Regions from separate parts of the Homo sapiens genome. Here region 2 is linked to region 1. A link means that fine-mapping ties the variant in region 1 to the expression of a gene that starts in the linked region. Tissue or cell type: testis. Region 1 holds a variant in brackets; the other region holds the start of a gene. All regions are shown on one strand. Distances are between the middles of the regions.

The links. PIP is the estimated chance that this variant, and not a neighbour inherited with it, causes the effect. A credible set is the group of variants that fine-mapping cannot tell apart.
Region 2: it holds the start of LINC02123, and the variant in region 1 is the best candidate, but not a certain one, in a credible set for the expression of LINC02123 in testis (GTEx, PIP 0.59).

What each region holds. Positions count from the first base shown.
Region 1 is chr5:7,371,213-7,376,378 of GRCh38, forward strand. It overlaps LINC02142 (long intergenic non-protein coding RNA 2142), which reads left to right and starts at 1,954. Exons shown (of 4, transcript NR_183263.1): 1 at 1,954-2,303. LOC105374645 (a long non-coding RNA gene) reads right to left here and starts at 1,882. Exons shown (of 7, transcript NR_188260.1): 1 at 1,661-1,882. The variant T/A (reference allele first, on the strand shown) is at 2,091.
Region 2 is chr5:7,345,275-7,350,440 of GRCh38, forward strand. It overlaps LINC02123 (long intergenic non-protein coding RNA 2123), which reads right to left and starts at 2,703. Exons shown (of 2, transcript NR_134277.1): 1 at 2,602-2,703; 2 at 1,712-2,494.

The sequences.
Region 1 (5,166 bases):
TGATGTTTTCTTAATAAACCCTCCCATCACCACCCTGAATCCAAAATTCTCTCTACCATAGGGCCCTTCGCTACTTCCACCACCACTGTCTCCATCATCACCACCATCACCAACTTCATCACTACCGCTATCACCACCATCATTATCACCACCACCTCCACCATCACCTTCATTACCACCACTGCCTCCACCATCACCACTACCTCCACCAACACCACCACCATCATCACCACCATCACCTCCACCGTCACCACCACCACCTTCACTACCACCACTACCTCCACCGTCACCACTACCTCCACCAACACCACCACCAGCATCATCACCACCACCACCTCCACCGTCACCACCACCACCACCTTTGTTACCACCACTACCTCCACCAATACCACAACCAACGACCTCCACCATCACCACCATCACTACCACCATCACCATTATCACCACCACCTCCATCATCACCACCAGCACCTTCATTACCACCACTACCACCACCATCACCACCACAACCTCCACCGTCACCACCACCATCACCAATACCACCACCACAAGCACCAACTTCATTACCACCACCACCTCCACCACCACCACCACCACCACCTTCATTACCACCACTACCTCCACCGTCACCACTACCTCCACCAACACCACCACCAGCATCATCACCACCACAACCTCCACCGTCACCACCACCATCACCAATACCACCACCACAAGCACCAACTTCATTACCACCACCACCTCCACCACCACCACCACCACCACCTTGATTACCACCACTACCTCCACCGTCACCACTACCTCCACCACCTTAATTACCACCACTACCTCCACCATCACCACTACCTCCACCAACACCATCTTCATCACCACCACCACCATCATCACCACCCTACCACCACCTTCATCACCACCACCTCCACCATCACCATCAGCACCACCATCACCACCACTACCTCCATCATCACCACTACCACCTCCACCATAACCAACACCACCACCACTGTCACCACCACCACCTCCATCATCACCACCACCACTACCACCATCACCACCACCACCACCTTCATTACCAACACTACCTCTACCATCACCACCACTGCCTCCACCATCACCACTACCTCCACCAACACTGCCAACATGATCTTCATCACCACCACCATCATCACCACCACTACCACCACCTTCATCACCACCACCACCTCCACCATCACCATCACTACCTCCACCATCACAATCACCACCACTGCCACCATCACCACCACTACCTCCACCACCACCACCACCACCACCTCCACCATCACCACCACCACCTCCACCATCACCACCACCACCATCACCACCACCACCACCACCACCACCATCACCACCATGACCTCCATCGTCACCACCACTACCTCCACCACCCCTACCACCTCCACCATCACCACCACTACTTCCACCACCACCACCTCCACCATCACCACCACTACTTCCACCACCACCACCACCACCTCCACCACCACCACCTCCACCATCACCACCACCACCATCAGCACCACCACTACCTCCACCATCACCAACACCACTTCATCACCACCACCACCACCATCACCACTACCTCCACTATCACTACCATCATTACCACCACCACCACCACCATCACCACCACCACCTGTACCACAATCACCACCATCTTGCTGATTGGTCTTCATCCAACAGAAGGCATGTTGATTTTTCTCTCAAGGCCTCACATTAAGAGACTCAGAGAATGACCTGTGATATGATATAATTTCAGGGCTGGGTGACTAAGTCTGAGCCAGATGCAGGTGCATCAGTAAAGATCATATGCTCTACAGAAAGGGAGATGACCTCACAGATGCAGAGAGAAGCTAAGACTCACAGCGGCTACGACCTCAGAAAGGAAAAGAATGTTGTGGTTCTTGGTTCCTGATAGGCCCCTCAAGGCTGAACCTCCTCACATGTTGGAGCTTTAAAGATACAGCTGTATCAGGCCAGGCGTGGTGACTCATGCCTGTAATCCCAGCACTTTGGGAGACCGAGGAGGGCGATCGAGACCATCCTGACTAACATGGTGAAACCCCATCTCT[T/A]CTAAAAATACAAAAAATTAGCCAGACTTGGTGGTGTACGCCTGTAGTCCCAGCTACTCAGGGGGCTGAGGCAGGAGAATCGCTTGAACCCAGGAGGTGGAGGTTGCAGTGAGCTGAGATCGCGCCACTGCACTCCAGCTTGGGCGACAGAGCGAGACTCCATCTAAAAAATACAGCTGTATCAAATCTGCTTGTGCTTTGGCCATCTGAGAGGTGAGAATCTTCTGTTTTTGTTATTTGCAACCAATTCTTAAATAAGTAACAATGTCAAATCAAAATAATCATAGCATATTATTAAAACATTATGAAAATATGTAGAGATATTAAATTTATTTGAGATATAAGCTTATGTAGCAATATTTACATGGACATCACCCTTGCTTCCTATATCCAAACCAGAAAATTCATAGAGTTGACTTAATCAAAAATACAGAATTTAAATCTTCATCTATTATCTTCGAAGTAAGGGATTAAGGAAGAATAATCCTATGATTCCCTCTCTTTACTAATTTATAGTATATTGCATGATGAACACATTTGACTCTCAAGTCAACAAGGAATGAAAGAGATTAAGCAATTTCATTAGTTATCTAACTCTAAAATGAATGATGTATTTATAATGATTCAGGATGCTGATACAGTGCAAACATGTTCTTACTGCAGCCAAAGCTGAATTGGCTGGGGAGAAATTGGGGATGATCATGAGTAAAATATTTCTTCCTTCATACTTAAAGACGACAGAGAAAGAGACAACACTGTAAAGGCAGCAAGATCATCATCTGGCACTTAACAAAGCTGAAAAGGTTCAGCTGCTGCTTCCAGCAGAACTCAAAATGAAGAAGTTATTTGTATCTTATTTTTCTTTAGCTCTTTTTACCCTATACCATACAGAGGTGTTGGCCACAGGGGAATGTCCAATGAATCATCTTGTTATGTTGCAGAACACAGAGGGCTTCTCTAGATTTTTTTTTAATGGTTTTTGAGAAATAAAAGAGCGATATTCCTGACTCTTTCATTACTTCCTCACTGAGAGAGTTAACACATTTAATTTCTGCTTGACAGCTGGGCATGGATTAAGCGTGTTAAGCAGGTAATCCCTTATCTTTCAAACCTAGAGATTTCCCCAATGGCATCTCAAAGATGTGCTTACAAGGCAATGTATATTTCGTTAGTTACTTACTGAACTGGAACTTGGTTTCCCGAAGGCTGTTACCAGGTGTTTTACCAGGTGACCCATGTCAAAAATGACTTATTTCTCATTAATTCAAAATAAGCACTTGAAGCAATGCCCTGATATGTTTAAATGATGTGTTTATATTGGCATAAATAATGAATATATTCTTGTTATTGTTTCTAGTCCTTGACTTAACATCAGAATGCTTTCTTTATTTTTTTTGAAGATTTTAAAAATATATTATAAATGGAACACAGTCATTTCAGAAAATGTGGAAAGTAAAAAAAAAAAATTGTATGCATAAGTCACCAATTCTTCCACCATCCACAGTTTATCACTTTTTTTTTTTTTTTTTTTTTTGAGACGGAGTCTCGCTGTCACCCAGGCTGGAGTGCAGTGGCGCAATCTGGACTCACTGCAAGCTCCGCCTCCCGGGTTCACACCATTCTCCGGCCTCAGCCTCCCCAGTAGCTGGGACTACAGGTGCCCACCACCACGCCCAGCTAATTTTTTTTGTATTTTTAGTAGAGGTGGGGTTTCACCGTGTTAGCCAGGATGGTCTCGATCTCCTGACCTCGTGATCCGCCCGCCTCGGCCTCCCAAAGTGCTGGGATTACAGGCGTGAGCCACCGCACCCGGCCCACAGTTTATCACTGATAAGGTTTCCTTGTGTGCTTACCTTAAACATTTGAAATAATGAGTGATCAATATTTTAACTATTCATTTAATACTATAGAATAATTTTCCCAACTTTTTTGAAAACATGAACATTAAGGATAGCTTAGCTTAAGTGCTCAATCTCATACTGTCCTTTTAGATACTGAGTAACCCCTAAATGTGTGTACTTTGATCGCACTTGTACAAATTTCAGCAATCGCGCTGATTTCAGTAGATATATTATATGAATCATGTGAATAAAATTCAGTGATATCTTCACCAAGCAGAAAACGATGTCCTCTGGCCTCCTACAGTTCCTAGGATACCTGCCTCAAGCCAGCTCACCCATCCGCAGCACCACTAAATATCTAACGTCCTGAAATACCGATTCCTATGGAAACCTCACCAAATGGACAGTGAAATGGGAGGATGATTAATGAAAGATTTTACTTCTCTGATGCCTGAGATTTTCTAAACACATTTCCTCTGTTGTTTGTTCTAGAGTGAATTCTTTTAGTGTCTGAGACTACATTGATTTATGTGGCTGATGTAAACAGGCACACACATCCAATTCTGAGTCTCTTTCAGGAAATATTACAAAATGTATACTACATTCCTCGTCTCATAGATGTAGCTTGATATTTTTTATTTCTAGTTTTATTATAGTAGCATTTCTCCATTAGCCTTCAGCAGGAAATGACAGTGTACTTTTAAAATAACTTTATGTGTTAAAAGGATTTGGGTCGAGATAATTTAGAATTAAGAAGGAATAAACGTATTTTGTAAATGCAATGTTCCAAAAGCCGTCTTTGGATCCCAGCCTAAAAGACTCTGATTCTTATCACAAGCACTCTTTTTTCTTTCTTTCCTTTCTTTCTTTCTTTTTTTTTTCAATCCTGAGATAATAGCTTTCCATCTTGCTGGTCTTGGGATGCAGGTTCTACCAACTTTCAAGACAGGGTTCCATAATAGAGTTCGTTTGAAATATTCAGGGCAATGACCCTGCAAGGCCAGTAAGAACTGGCCTGTGTCCTCCTTGCCCTGCAGACGATGTGGCTGGATACATCAGAAAGATAGCTTCAAGTGCATGAGCCTGCCTGGCTCATTCTCTATATTTCTCTGATAAGGATGGGGCAGAAGAGGAAGTCAGATCAACAAAACCTACTTTTGTCAGGTCATGAGCTACTGCTAGATGCTTCATGTACCCATGAACTTACTTTATCAAACACTCCCACTTATAATTGA
Region 2 (5,166 bases), 26 kb before region 1:
TCCCTACTTCCCTAGAGTTCTTTCATGAAACACATCAGCAGCTCTGGGTATTGCCATTTGCAGAATTGAGGAGGGTATGGGAAGCTGAAGTTCAGGGACATTACTTTGCTGTGAATTTGCCACCAGAAATGGTGGTGTCCAGGACTGTATCAAAGCCATATGGCCATGAGGATTTTGCTTTGAGTAAAGTTGGGATAACTTTTAGAGTTCTGTAAGATGGGAGGATGAATTGGACCTTCCTCCTAGGGTGAGGCTTAGATGAGTTCCCACATCTCAGGACACGCAACAGGCTGGGCACAGCCACTGCTGGGTAAAGGCTGCCACTGATATTATTTGTATTATTTTGTTTTTATTATAGTTGTCATCTTGTTGCTTGTCTGTGCTTCTGAAATTACAGTTAAGTGAGCATCCAAAGGCTCTTCTCAATCCCAAAGCCCACCCCTCCGCTTCTGCCCTTCAAGTGGTATCAGTGGAGCACTGCGTGGTTAGGACTTTCGGCGTAAGAGACAATTAATCAAAGTTAATGGACACTTCTTTGTTACACAACACGACTAATGTCAATGGCAAACAAATCACTGAAAAACAATGACCAATAAACCCAACTGAAAGGTTTTTCCATTGAAAATAAAATCAACCATGCCTAATCTACTTGGATTTCAAATGAAGTCATAATTGCTTTTTGCTGAAACTACTCCAGTTACCCAATACCCTGCACCAGTAATGATTAAACAAATCTATGAACTTAAACTTGGGAATTAGTGAAGGGCTTTTCTTCGGGCAAAAAATTGTACAAACAATCCCTAGGATGTTAATCAATGAAACAAATTAACAGTCAGGAGCCCAGGCTCAGAACCTGGTGTACCATGGATTCAAATACTTGCTGTGCCACTTGGCTTCAGATCTTGAACAATTCACTGAATGTCCCATGTGCCTTACTTTGCTAATCCCTATAATGGGGATGATGATAGTACCTGTTTCATTGGATTGTTGGGCTGATTGTGTGAGTGAATACATATAAAATGCTTAGAACAGTGTCTGGCATGTAACGAGCAGTCAAAACAGGGTTGACATTATTATTATTATTTAGATGTTTCGCAAATTACTAGTTTTGTTTTTTCAAATATCTATTCTTCTAAACACTTTTTTTTTTTTCTGGTCAGGCACAGTGGCTCACGCCTGTAATCCCAGTACTTTGGGAGGCCAAGGCAGGCAGATCACTTGAGGTCAGGAGTTTAAGACCAGCCTGGCCAACATAATGAAACCCCGTCTCTACTAAAAATACAAAAAAATTAGCCAGGTGTTGTTGCGGGCGCCTGTAATCCTAGCTACTCTGGAGGCTGAGGCAGGAGAATTGCTTGAACCCAAGAGGTGGAGGTTGCAGTGAGCTGATGTCGTGCCACTGCTCTTCAGCCTGGGTGACAGAGCAAGACTCTGTCTCAAAAAATAAATAAATAAAAATAAAATAAATAAATAAACACATTTTTCTGCATATTCCTTAGAGATAATTGAGTTATGAACTGGGTAAGACTCCAAACGGAGCCCAGTTGCACCTTCGCGTCATCTATATTCCCGTTTTCACATGTCCCTCACACCCGTGCTAGGATGATTGAGTATGACAGAGACATGCCTCCCCCATGCCTGTGCTTTAGGGAACTAGCTCATCCACTTCTCCCACGGCCCCACTGAACTCTGGGCTGAGTAACTAGGCCTCTGGGGTTGGAGGACTAAAGCTCAGAAGTGGGCACCTAAAGAGGAGATTTTCTGGTGCATTCTCTTCCACCAATGTTCTAATGCAAAGTCTATCAGGAAATCTAGGTTTATATATCTCTGAAGAGTGTTTATTCAATTTACCAAAAAGAATATAAAATGTACAGTAAGTTCTTTCTAAAATATAAGTGTTTCCATTATCTTTGATGTATGAGTGAATAAAACATTGATTTAGACAATGTGGCATGTGCCCCAGAAATGGAAATACAGCATTGGTCTGGGGAAGGGATTAATATTTATTGATCACTACTATGTGCCAGACATTTTATATACAACTTATTTCAATTTCAATTTCACATCAACCCAGTACAGTAGGTTTGACACCAATTTTTTAAAAAAGACCATTTATTCTCAGAGTTGTTGAACAATCTGGACTGTATTGGACGGCGGAGTAGTGAGTTAGAGTGTCCATCACTCCATCCGGGGCCCTCTTGCCCTACCAAAACCCAGCCCCCAACAGCCCGTCCCACTGAGCAGCTGGAGTCCATCCTGTAAGGCAGCAGGCTTTTCACATGATTGCCCCGCATATCATTTGCTTTGCATCTCTTTAAATTGTACCAGTTAGTCTCCCCAGGGCCTCCCCAGATTCCAAGTAGATCCCTCTGGCAGCTCTGCTGTGCTTGGCATTACCAGCACTCTCTGAGCTGAGACTCAGCCTCTTCCTCTTAACTTGTGCAGCCAAAGTTCTCTGCACACCTCATCGGCAGGTTCATCTTCTCAGTGAAGCCTGTAGAGATGGGAAACAAGTAGATACAAAATTACATATGAATTTAGATTTTTTTTTTCTAAAGCAATAGGAAAATTTACTCATCTATTTTTCCCGTTTACCCCTACTTTAATTCTGTTTTCCCTTTCTAAGTTTACACAATAAGCAGCTAATCCCACTTGCTCTCTCTTTTGGGCCTGGAGTTCCTTAGGGCAGCTCTCTCACCCCACAAAGGAGCCAGGAGTTCTCTGGCTGCCTCCTTCCTAAGCTTGGAGGGTGCATTGCCCTGCTTTTCTTTCTATGTGGATGCTGAAATCTTCTCAGTTGTATCATGGTTGAAAGCTTCATTATTCCTTTTGCCTGTAAGAAGAGCCTTAGATTGAAACAGAATATCTAATTACATTGGAAGGAAAAATATCGACATTCATTTATAAAATATCTTCCTGGTATCTTCCTAGACAGACGTTCCGTTTAATGAACTAGAGAGCTACTAGCTTCCCTCCCATCACTGCAGAAATCATACAGATAAGATGCCAGGGCTAGCAGAGTTAAGAGGCAGTGGTTATGCAGCTCTAGTTTCCTAACATACTCGGGCTATGTTAGAATAAAAAAGTCTTTGAGGGCTGGTGCTGGCTGGGGCAGGGGCCAGCTCCGATGAAAGCACACTGCAAGCTTCAGTAGAGAAACAACAGGGGCCCGAGCACAACTTCAAAAAGCAGTTGCAAGGACTACAGATATTTCCTTTTTTTTTTTTTTTTCCAAGTTTGAGGATTGAAGCTGGAGCATCGGAACTTCAGGAAAAGAAGGAGCAGCGCAAGGAAGACTGAGATGATTTCTGATGATCATCAGAGCAAAGGAAGTGCTGAGCAGTGAATGAGGCTGTCTTAATTCTCCCACTTGAGCTTGAGAGCAGCAGTCAGGAGCTGTCTGCATCTCCTTTCATTCTCCTTTCATTCAACGTTATGTAACAGTCCCTCTAAAAGGAAACTCTCTACCTAGCTACTGAATTAATTGATGTCCTTAAGCCCTGGGGGAACCTCTGTGGGCAGCCATGTTGCTGCCTCAAAATGGGAAGAAAGAGAAATCACTCAGGGGAATATAATTTTGTATTGTTCTTCATGAGACAGGAGAGAAGAAGGGAGTGTTGGGAGTTCTGGACTGGAAGAAATGTGTGTAACTAAATATAGTAATTGCATTATTCACAGCAGGCTTATGCTGCAGTTGTATTTATTGCTGCATGAAATTTTTTTTCTATAAGATTCAGAGCCTATATTTATAGGATCAAAGTCAATAATTTTTAAAATTATTATTATCACAAAAGTATTGGGAATGCCCTTGAACTTGTTATAGTTTTAAAAGTGTAAAATTGCATTCTGATTCTGACTGAAATTAATGGGCTCAGGCACTCACTGGGGGCTCTGGAAAATACACAAAATACACACAAACTTCCATATAACTTTTAAAACAAACTCAGTATTGATAATGAGACTGCTTCACCAGATAATACAAGCAAAAGTATGGGTGTGGTAAAATATTCAGAGATTTAGGCCAGTCTTCGGGCAAGACAGCAGAGTAGGTTCTTCCTGGTATCTATTTTAAGAATCTAGCAGCAAAAGAAAATGGTAGAACCATTTGGGAATTCTTCATGGACGGTTGGCTGTGAGAAAATAACGCTGTCAAGGCTGTGCTTTGCTAAACAGGCAGGCTACCGTCCATGTGTGCTCCACACCCTGATGAAAATGATCAGAGCTCTGCCTTGACAAACGGCAACCATTCCGTTTCTATTCCATTGAAAGGCAGCCCCAAAATGGCATCTAGTGAAGAAATCAATGAAAGAATGGTGTTTTTTTAGTTGAACTATTTATTGAGATAATTGAACATTCACATGCATTTGTAAGTAATAATATACAGAGATCCTCTCTACCCTTTACTCATTTTCCCTCAATGGTAACACCTTGGAAAATTATAGTGCAATTATCACAACCAGGGTATAGACATTAATACAATCCTCCAACCTGACCCCGATTTCCTGGTTTGCTTGTATTCATTTGTATGGCGTGTGTGTGTGTGTTTCGTTCTGCATAATTTTATTATGCATGTAGGTCCTGCTTCCTGCATGCACCGCTACAATCTAGATATCTACATACAGAACAATTCTGTATGGCTTTTCCTTCTTTTAAAACCACACCCACCTTCCGTTGGCCCCACTCCTCACCTCCCAGGGCCTAAGTCCTGGCAACTACTAATCTATTCCTCTGCGTTTCTAACATTTTGTTATTTCAAAAACATTATGCAAGTGGAATCATACAGTATGTAAACTTTTGGGGATTCGCTTTTTTCACTCAATGTGTTTCCTTAGAGATTCATTCAAGTTGTCAGGTGTATCAATAGTTTGTTCCTTTTACTGCTTCATGGTCTGTGATCTGGATATATCATGGTTTGTTTAACATTTACCTTTGAAGAACATCTGTGCTGCTTCCAGTTTGGGGCTATTATAAATAAAGCTGTGATGAACATTTGTGTATAGTTTTTGGTGTGAACATAAGTCTTCATTTCTCTGGGACAAATGCCTATGGGTGCCATTACTGGGTTATTTTGTATTTTCATGCTGGGTTTTATAAGAAACTGTCAAATTGCTTTCCAGATTGTACCATTTCACATCCCCACCAACAATGTGTGAGTGATCTGGTTTC